Linked DNA regions of Homo sapiens: regions 1 and 3 are each reported to be linked to region 2. Evidence: microRNA targets listed by miRTarBase, many of them from high-throughput screens and not tested one by one. Region 2 holds a microRNA gene; each other region holds the end of a gene's coding sequence.

Region 1 (3,000 bases), not on the chromosome of region 2:
CAACTCAAAGTGCAGCTGGCCTCGGCTGACTACTTCGTGTTGGCCTCCTTCGAGCCCCCACCTGTGACCATCCAACAGTGGAACAATGCCACATGGACAGAGGTGAGGCCTCACCCACTTGCTCTCTCTACCCACTCCTCCCAGGGCCAGGATGGCAGGAAGCAAAGGGCAGCCTCAGGGCCCAGGGTGCCCCTGCTGGCCTGGAGCTGTTGCCTTCCAGCCTGGGCAGCTCTCTTAGAGGACCTGGCTCCTGCCTTCCCCTCCCCCGTCCCGGTGGTCACTTCCTCTCCCTTCCTCCCAACAGGTCTCCTACACCTTCTCAGACTACCCCCGGGGTGTCCGCTACATCCTCTTCCAGCATGGGGGCAGGGACACCCAGTACTGGGCAGGCTGGTATGGGCCCCGAGTCACCAACAGCAGCATTGTCGTCAGCCCCAAGATGACCAGGAACCAGGCCTCCTCCGAGGCTCAGCCTGGGCAGAAGCATGGACAGGAGGAGGCTGCCCAATCGCCCTACCGAGCTGTTGTCCAGATTTTCTGACAGCTGTCCATCCTGTGTCTGGGTCAGCCAGAGGTTCCTCCAGGCAGGAGCTGAGCATGGGGTGGGCAGTGAGGTCCCTGTACCAGCGACTCCTGCCCCGGTTCAACCCTACCAGCTTGTGGTAACTTACTGTCACATAGCTCTGACGTTTTGTTGTAATAAATGTTTTCAGGCCGGGCACTGTGGCTCACGCCTGTAATCCCAGCACTTTGGGAGACCGAGGCAGGTGGATCACGAGGTCAGGAGATAGAGACCATCCTGGCCAACACGGTGAAACCCTGTCTCTACTAAAAATACAAAAAATTAGCCGGGCGTGGTGGCGGGCGCCTGTAGTCCCAGCTACTCGGGAGGCTGATGCAGAAGAATGGCGTGAACCCGGAAGGCAGAGCTTGCAGTGAGCCGAGATCACGCCACTGCACTCCAGCCTGGGTGACAGAGCGAGACTCTGGCTCATAAAATAATAATAATAATAAATAAATAAAAAATAAATGTTTTCAGTAAAACCAGCCTGGGGTTGGTTTTAGGAGTGGGGAGAGGGGGTCCCTGGCATTTTGGTGGAGAAGCAGCCCCTCTCCCAGGTTACCCTGGCCATACCTGTCCCTCCCACTCCAGTTAATGATGGCTCAGCTCAGCCCAGCCCTTGGGGCCCCTTTATTGAAACAACTCACAGCACAGTATTTGAGACAGACAGTGTTGGCCGGCGGAACCCCAGGAGGCTGAGAAGTCGAGGTTGCGGCATCCCTCACTGCCCTCCTGGGGGAGGCATCCTCCAAGCAGACCTGAGCGGCCCCGGGCTGGGGCGGGCGATCCACACACAGAGGCGATAAGAGCACTTGGAATCAGGGCAGCCATGCAGCACTGCCCTAGGCGGGGATCCCCCAAAGTCTGACAGTTTGGGCATCAGTGGGGTGGCAGGTGCCCCCTCAGCTGCCTTTATGAGCGCGCTCTTCCACGTAAAGCTGCATCTGACGGACACAAGCAAACAGCCACAGTCAGCAAGACAGCCAGGGCATCCCTGCTGGAGGACACAGAAGCCCCTGGTGGGCAGACCTCCACCACAGGTGGGGCCTCGTGGCCATAGCCATGGTGGAGAAGAGTAGAGATGGGAGGAGCCCTCCACCAGGCACTCCCCCGTTCTCTCCCGCAAGCCCTCTAGTAAGGCCTCAGCACCGGGCCTCACTTCGTTAAGCAGCCCCTAAATAAAGCTTCCCGGGTCCCCACGAAGCTCACCTTTAAAATGTCCGACGTCATGGTTTTTAGTGGTATCAGCCGGGGGTCATGCATGTGGACATCCTGCTCATCCGCCAGGATCCAGGGGAAATCCTAGGGAGGAGACAAAGGTCAGGGGGGTGACGGGGCTGGGCCCTGGCCTGCCCTCACTTTGCTGTCCCTCCCACTCCAGACCAGGGGCCTCCAACCTGAGCCTCAGAATCACTAGGAAGCTGTTGGTGATGCAGACCCCAGGACCGCCCCCATCCCCCACAGAGGCCAAGTCCATAGAACCCAAGTGACGAACAGGCTCCAGGCACCAACGCTGAACCTGGTGGGCTAGGACCCCTCCCTGGAGAGCCCCCACTTCAGAAGAGCCAGGATGAGCTGGGGGCCCCAGTAGGTGGCTCCACCTGGGCTCCTCACTGCCCCAAGTGCCCAGATGGAGCAGTGGACAGGCCTGAGGACCTGCTGGGTGCCAGGCGCTGCCACACCAATGTAATGGGTGGCTGGCCACAGGCAGTGCCCCTGCCCGCCTGGAACTGCGACATCACGTTTCTAGAGCCTGCGCCCAGACCCAGACCCATCTCATCTCACCTTGATGACCTGGATCTTCTCCATGTTGCGAGTGGCGGCTTCTCTCGTGTGCACCAGGACTGTGAAGGTACAGCCTGGAGAGGCAAGAGGTTGGTGGAGGCTCCCCCACCGCCCTGGTGCCAGCCACTGGGCCCAGCCTCTTCCCACTTCCCTTGCTGGCTCAGCAGCACCCCCAGAGCAGATGGCAAAGCAAGTGCTAAGAAAAGCCCCAGTCAATAGGGAGATGGAAGCCAGGTAGAATCAATCAGGGAAGCTTCCCAGAGGAGGTGGACTCTCAGGGTTAGGAAGAGATGAGTCTCAGAACAGCCAAACATGGACCTGGGAACACAGACCAACCCGAGATAACCATGGAAATGCCAAGGGAAGAGAGGGTGGGGAGTGGACACACCTGGGGGGTTGTGGTCCAGGACGGCATCGCACACGCTGATCTTCAGGATGAAGGCCCGGAGCAGCTGCTCCACATGAGACAACAGCGAGTCTGAGCTGGGAGTGAGAGGAGGTCTTCCCATCACACTGGCGCCCTCCCCTCCACCACAGGCATCAAGCCTGGATGCAGACCTGGGGTACAAGACCCCCTCCAGTGCCTGTGAGAGTGCTGCATGCCTAGGACCCAGCTCCCTATCCGGTCCACACAATTAAACCAGCAAGGGAGT
Region 2 (3,352 bases):
TTTAATCAATTTATAAGTAATTTCTGAAAAGAAGGAAGCTACTTCTGTCATTTTACTATTTTTGAATTCTTTTTTTTTTCTTTTTTTGAGACAGAGTCTTGCTTTGTCACCCAGGATGGAGTGCCATGGCACAATCTTGGATCACTGCAGCCTCCGCCTCCTGGGTTCAAGTGATTCTCCTCCCTCAGCCTCATGAGTATCTGGGACTATAGGCATGTGCCACCACACCTAGCTATTTTTTGTATTTTTAGTAGAGACAGGGTTTCACCATGTTGGCCAGGATGGTTTCGATCTCCTGACTTCATGATCCACCCACCTCGGCCTCCCAAAGCGCAGGGATTGCAGGTGTGAGCCACTGCGCCCAGCCACTATTTGAATTCGTTATAGCTTATAGATGTTTCCCTACATTTCCTGCATTACTATCTTTTATATTTAGTTGTCTATTTTATTTTCTTTAGTGATTTGCTTAAATTTCTTTCTCATTTCCTTGTATATAGCTATTTTCTTGGTGGTTACCATAGGGATTATATTTTAGATCCTGCATATATAACATTCTAATTTAAATTTGTACCACCATAACTGCAATAATATATAAAAACTCGGCTCCTTCAAAAGCTCCATTCCCCCACCCTCTCAATTTTTGATGTCACAAAATTATATCTTTATGTATTATACAAAAATATAAACATGTAAGTATTTTAAATTCATTAGTCTCTTAAATTATGTACAAAACAAAATTGGAGTTACAAAGCATAATATGAACTTTTATACAAATTTAAATATATATATATTAACCTCTTAAAGCATGTAGAACACGAAAAGTGCAGTTAAAAAGTATTGTTACAATAATATAAGCTTTTATAATTTTCTATGTATTTTCCTTTATTAAGATCTTTATTTCTTTACACAACTTCAAGTTACTGTCTAGTGTCTTCTCATTTCACTCTGCAGGAGGATTTCTTGCAAGTCAGGTCCAATGGTAACAAGCTCTCCCAACTGTTGTTTTCCTGGGGATGTCTTAATTTCGCCCTCACTTTAAGGACAGTTTGGCTGGATATAAGATTCTTGTTTGATAATGTTTTCTGTTTTTGTTTTTCTTTAGCACTTCGAATGTCAGCCCACTGCCTTCTGGCCTGCAACGTTTCTGGTGAGAAATATACTGATAATCTTACTGATTATTCCTTATAAGTAATATATTGATGTTTTTCTGCTGCTTTTAAGATTCTATCTTTGTCTCCACCTTTTAAAGCTTTGATTATAATGTATTTCAGTTTATGTCTTTTTGAGTTCATCTTCCTTGAATTCTGTTGGATTTCTTGAATGTTTATATTAATGTCTTTTATCAGATTTGGAAAGGTTCTATCCGTTGTTTCTTCAAGTTTTCTCTTCTCTTTCTCCTCTCCTCCTGTGACTCCTTGATTGTGTCACACAGGTCCCTTAGACTCTGTTTACTTTTTTCAATTCTTTTTCCTTCTGTTCCTTGATTTCCATTGTCCTATCTTCAAGTTTACTGACTGTTTCCTTTGCTTGCTCAAATCTTCCTTTGAATCGCTCTAGTAAATTTTTTATTTAAGTTGTTGTACTTTTCAGCTCCCAATTTTTTTTAACTTCTTGTGAGGTTTCCTATCCATTGAATTTTTTTCATTTTGTTCATATATCATTTTCTTGACTTTCTCTATATCTTCCTGTAGTTCTTTGATCATTTAACACAATTATTTTAAAGTCCCTCTGTAGCAGATCCACCATCAAGTCATTTTAGGGATTTCATATTTTCCTTTGGACAAGACATAGTTTCTTAATTTTTTGTATGAATTGTGATTTTGGATCTAATAACATAGTAACTCTAAAAATTAGATTCTCCCTCTTACTGAGAGTTTGCGGTTACTTCAGTCAATGATTTTGCTTTTTATATTGTCATAAGAGGATTCTGTTGTAGGCTATCTCTGTGCCAAGAATCAGTCTGAAGTGTAAACTTAAAGACTGTCTTTTCTAAGCCTGTGCCAAAGGAAAGGCAAGGCACAGGCTTAGAAAAGACAGTCCTTAAGTTTACACTTAGTAACTTAGTCATTTTCTGATTGTCACCATATGTGCAGTTACTTTGAATGCCCTACTTTTTAATGTCTAGCTGTCAAAGGGGGAAAAACAGAAAAATAAAGTAGGAGAAGGGCACTGGCCCTTTTAATCTTCTGGAAGTCACTTCAGCCAGCAGGGAGGGGCTTGCAATAATGGATAGAGGTGCAACAATAACCACTCACCTCTTTGCGTCCATCTTTGTGACCAGAAACAGCAATCAGCAATCAGAGCAAAGATTGCCGATATTTGGATGACAGGTCCTTTTTTTGCCCACTCTGGTTCCTGCATGCTCTGTGCAGACTGCTCCAGTAACATGTGCACAGCTGCCTGCTACAGGGGTGACTGTGGGAAATGGGTAGCTACTACTGTGGTTAAGTGCTGAAATTGACTGAAATTAATCATAATTCGCCATGCAAGCTTTCCCCTAGAAGTTGCAAGCCTTTAGTAGATGTCAAAAATCCAAAATAGTTATATATCAGACAGATTCTGCCAGTACAATTGTTCTCTAGGTGGGAAGACAGATTCCTGGTGCTTCCTACTCCACCATATTTCTATAACTATTTCTCCATAATGTTTTAACTACTGTAATTTTGTAATATCCTTTGAAGTCAGGAAGTGCAGGACCTCCAGCTTGTTCTTTAGATTGTTTGGGCTCTTTTTGGTTCTCTGCGGTTGCATATGAATTTTAGAATTGCTTTTTCTATTTCAGAAAAAAAAAACAGCTATGGGTATTTTGATATGGATGGTATTTAACCTGTGGATAGCTTTAAGTAGTATGGACAACAATATTAAGTCATCTAATTCATGAATATATATGTCTATTTATTACCATCTTTATTTTCTTTAGAAATGTTTGTAGTTTTCAGAGAACAAGTCTTTAGTCTCCTGTTAAGTTTATATTTCTATGTATTTTTGATGCTATTTTAACCCAATTTTTAAAAATTTCCGTTTCAGATTTATGTTAGTATATGAAATCACAACTGATATTTGCATATTGATTTTGTGTCCTGCAACTTTGCTGAATACATTTATTAATTCTAGTAAGCTTTTTTATGTGGAATATTTAGGATTTTTTACATTCCATTTCTTTATTCCCTCTTTGCTCTATAAAGACAACACCATAAGGGTTTCATATGCTAAACATTCAAAAACACTTCTTTAAAAAAGCTATCTACTATCAACTGCCTCAAAGCCATCATTGAGATATTAGCTGAATATAACAGTTATTACATCATTTAATTTCAGTGTCAAAGCTTTACTTTCTTCATATAAAAAAAAA
Region 3 (3,000 bases), not on the chromosome of region 2:
TGGGAAAATGGACTTTAAGAGCCATTTAAAAGAACTTTAGAGTTATCTATAGTTTACACAAAAATCTCAGCTCTGTCTACCTAAACTAGACTATGTCATACATACTATATAATGTTTCAAGTCACTGAAATATTTTTTTCTTTTTAAGTTTTGCTCCAGATTACTATGATTGGGGACAACAAACTAACAGCTTCCTGGCACAAGCAGGAACTTTGCAAGACTCAACTTTGGATCCTGACAAACCAAGCCTTGGGTAGCATCAGTTAACAGTTTTATGGACGATTCCTCAGATGAAAAGCTTCAGAAAAGCATAGTGACAGCTGAATTTTTAGGGCACTTTTCCTTAAGAAATAGAACTTGATTTTTATTTGTTACAGGTTTCCAATGGCCCCATAGGAATAAGCAATAATGTAGACTGATAAACCCTTATTTTAGTACTAAAGAGGGAGCCTTGCTATTTCAGTGGGTATAATTTAAACTTTTTAAAGAAAATCTGTACTTTTATAAAGATGTATTTTGTATAACTTAAATAATAATGCTAAAGTATACTAGGGTTTTTTTTTCTTGAGAATGTTACTGCAATCATGTTGTAGTTTGCACAGACTTTTATGCATAATTCACTTTAAAAATATAGAATATATGGTCTAATAGTTTTTTAAAGCTTTTGGACTAAAGTATTCCACAAATCTTACCTCTTTAGGTCACTGATGGTCACTCCGATTCTGAGTGCCACATTGGTAGACTCCTAAAATACAGTTGACAACTTAGCCAATTGCAACTCCAGTGTTGATAATTAAAATGAAATGGTAAAGCAGCAGACTGTAAGGTCTTTAGAGATTTTTTTTTTAAGGTTCAGGCCGTAGGTTCCTCAAGGAATCTCTTAAGTTTTGCCCAAAGACTGGTACTTCCTTTCAGTAGGGCGCTAATGTATACACATTAATGATAAGTTGATAACATTAAAAATGTAGCTGACTTATCCTATTAAACCTCCTCTGCTATGTTCACAGATTCTGCATAGTTTTTTTTCAGCCTAATGAAATCTAATATGCATTACCTCAGGGCCACATCAAGAATACACCCCTTTCCGAACTCACTGAATGTTCATTACATTCAAGGAGAAAATAAGAGGGTCCATAAAGGGCATTAATAACAAATACCCCAAGCCGTTGAGCTAAGACTATGTGGAATCCTAATAGTTTTTTCCGTAATCTCCAACTATATTTAAAATAATGCCCTTCTAAATAGCTCTGTAAAGAGCCTATTGGAAGCTGCACATTTAAAAATGGCAATAGCACTGCAATATGCTGTAGCATGATGCCTGTCAGCCATGTTCCAGACAATTCCTTGTAAGTCATCTTTCATTTAAGTAAAAAACAGGTTATGAAGTACTGCCTCCCAGACCGGAAGTGCCATTCTAAAAACTCCACTATATATATCCTGGAGCCATAAAACTGCCTATTGGGAGGCTAAATGCTCTGCTTTTCTATAAAACAGAGATAAGGTTCTAGAGGAAGTACTGTTACCAGAAACAAGGCACGTTTCTTCTCTGCCTAGGAATGCTCATCTGGGGACAGAGGGAAGGTTCAATGAAAAGGAACTTATATTAACAAGTCCTACTACATGATGCAACCCATTTCAAATGACTCCTCTCATTTTGATCTTCAGGAATAACTGATCTCTGGGCATTGATTTCACAGATGAAGTCTACTATTGTTTTGGTAGTATTTAAAATTGGGATCTCAAGTTTCAAATTGATCATCATTGGGCTTTTCATGTGTATAGAACACCTTCACTCTGCATAATCCTACATAACAACATTCTTGTCTTCTAGTACATGAAAAAATTGGGGTAACATAGCATTTAAAGTAGTTATCAGGGAAAAGTCTATACTGAAGTGAACCCTACACTGTTATTCAAGTTGCCTTAACACATTATAAGCTATTATTCTAAATAGCTTTAACAGATTATTGTGGTCACACTGTATTACTAATAGTTAATTTAAAGGCAGACTCAGCATGTTTTAAACTCCTTTAAGTTACATCTTCAGAAAGTCCTGAAGTCCTTCAGTATTAGGTCAGCTAAGGGAAGATATATTTTTAAAAATAGTGATAAGACTATCACTAATATCATACTCATCCTGTAATATGTAAACACAGTTCTGTTGTTACTGGCAGAAAAATTGGAATACCCAGCATTAAGTGAGAGAAGTCAGCCTACTTTTATGATGAAGCTACTGGGATTTATTTGAACTATTATTTTTGTTAGATAGTATAAAAATGTTCTAAGTGCCTATTTTTCTCATTCCCCTTTTAAAAATGTAATGCTAAAATTTCTAGAAGTGTTGTAAACACGGAATACAAAAAAACTATGATTGATTACTCAAACTCTCCTTCCTTCTTAGTAAGGAAAATTAAAATTCCCTTTGGCTTTCTAATTTACTTGTTCTACTAGGTACACTAACAAAACTACTTCTGGCTGGGCGCGGTGGCTCACGCCTGTATCCCAGCACTTTGGGAGGCCGAGGCGGGAGGATCACAAGGTCAGGAGATCTAGACCATCCTGGCTAACACGGTGAAAGCCCGTCTATACTAAAAATACAAAAAATTAGCCGGGCGTGGTGGCGGGTGCCTGTAGTCCCAGCTACTTGGAAGGCTGAGGCAGAAGAATGGTGTGAACCCAGGAGGCGGAGCTTGCAGTGAGCGGACATTGCGCCACTGCACTCCAGCCTGGGCAACAGAGCAAGACTCGGTCTCAAAACAAAACAAAACAAAACAAAAAAACTACTTATGTGGAATATTAAATGCTAAGAGGAAAAGGAATGGTGATTACTGGTTGCAAAATACCCAAATGTCCTCTTGTTTTAAAGCAACACGATGAAATTAAAGCCCTGATGATTAGAAAGTTGAAGTATATGGGGAAGAGGGAATCACTGAAAATTTTGTGCCATCATTTAGCTAAGTCTGATGGAACACTGAAAAGTTTCATGTGAACGTTTCTGGG

What was found. Region 2 holds the annotated microRNA hsa-miR-4438 (CACAGGCUUAGAAAAGACAGU, at 1,980-2,000, opposite strand). A microRNA usually pairs through its seed, bases 2 to 8, with sites in the 3' UTR of a target mRNA and lowers its output. Matches are read on the target gene's strand: a 7mer-m8 pairs with bases 2 to 8, a 7mer-A1 pairs with bases 2 to 7 and ends in A, and an 8mer does both.
Region 1: miRTarBase lists FBXO6 as a target of hsa-miR-4438. Seed matches in the 3' UTR shown: 7mer-A1 at 733-739 and 7mer-A1 at 867-873.
Region 3: miRTarBase lists GPR137B as a target of hsa-miR-4438. The part of its 3' UTR that is shown has no 7-base or 8-base seed match.

What each region holds. Positions count from the first base shown.
Region 1 is chr1:11,673,311-11,676,310 of GRCh38, forward strand. FBXO6 (F-box protein 6) reads left to right here. Exons shown (of 6, transcript NM_018438.6): 5 at 1-102; 6 at 305-1,044. The coding sequence ends at 541. MAD2L2 (mitotic arrest deficient 2 like 2) reads right to left here. Exons shown (of 9, transcript NM_006341.4): 6 at 2,736-2,830; 7 at 2,348-2,421; 8 at 1,772-1,864; 9 at 1,170-1,506. The coding sequence ends at 1,465. Among named protein-coding and RNA genes, the nearest start is that of MAD2L2, 6.3 kb to the right of the region's middle.
Region 2 is chr2:213,756,770-213,760,121 of GRCh38, reverse strand. MIR4438 (microRNA 4438) reads right to left here and starts at 2,055; the gene lies at 1,963-2,055. All of the region lies in intron 10 of SPAG16 (sperm associated antigen 16), which reads right to left.
Region 3 is chr1:236,207,902-236,210,901 of GRCh38, forward strand. GPR137B (G protein-coupled receptor 137B) reads left to right here. Exons shown (of 7, transcript NM_003272.4): 7 at 149-1,006. The coding sequence ends at 257. Among named protein-coding and RNA genes, the nearest start is that of GPR137B, 67 kb to the left of the region's middle.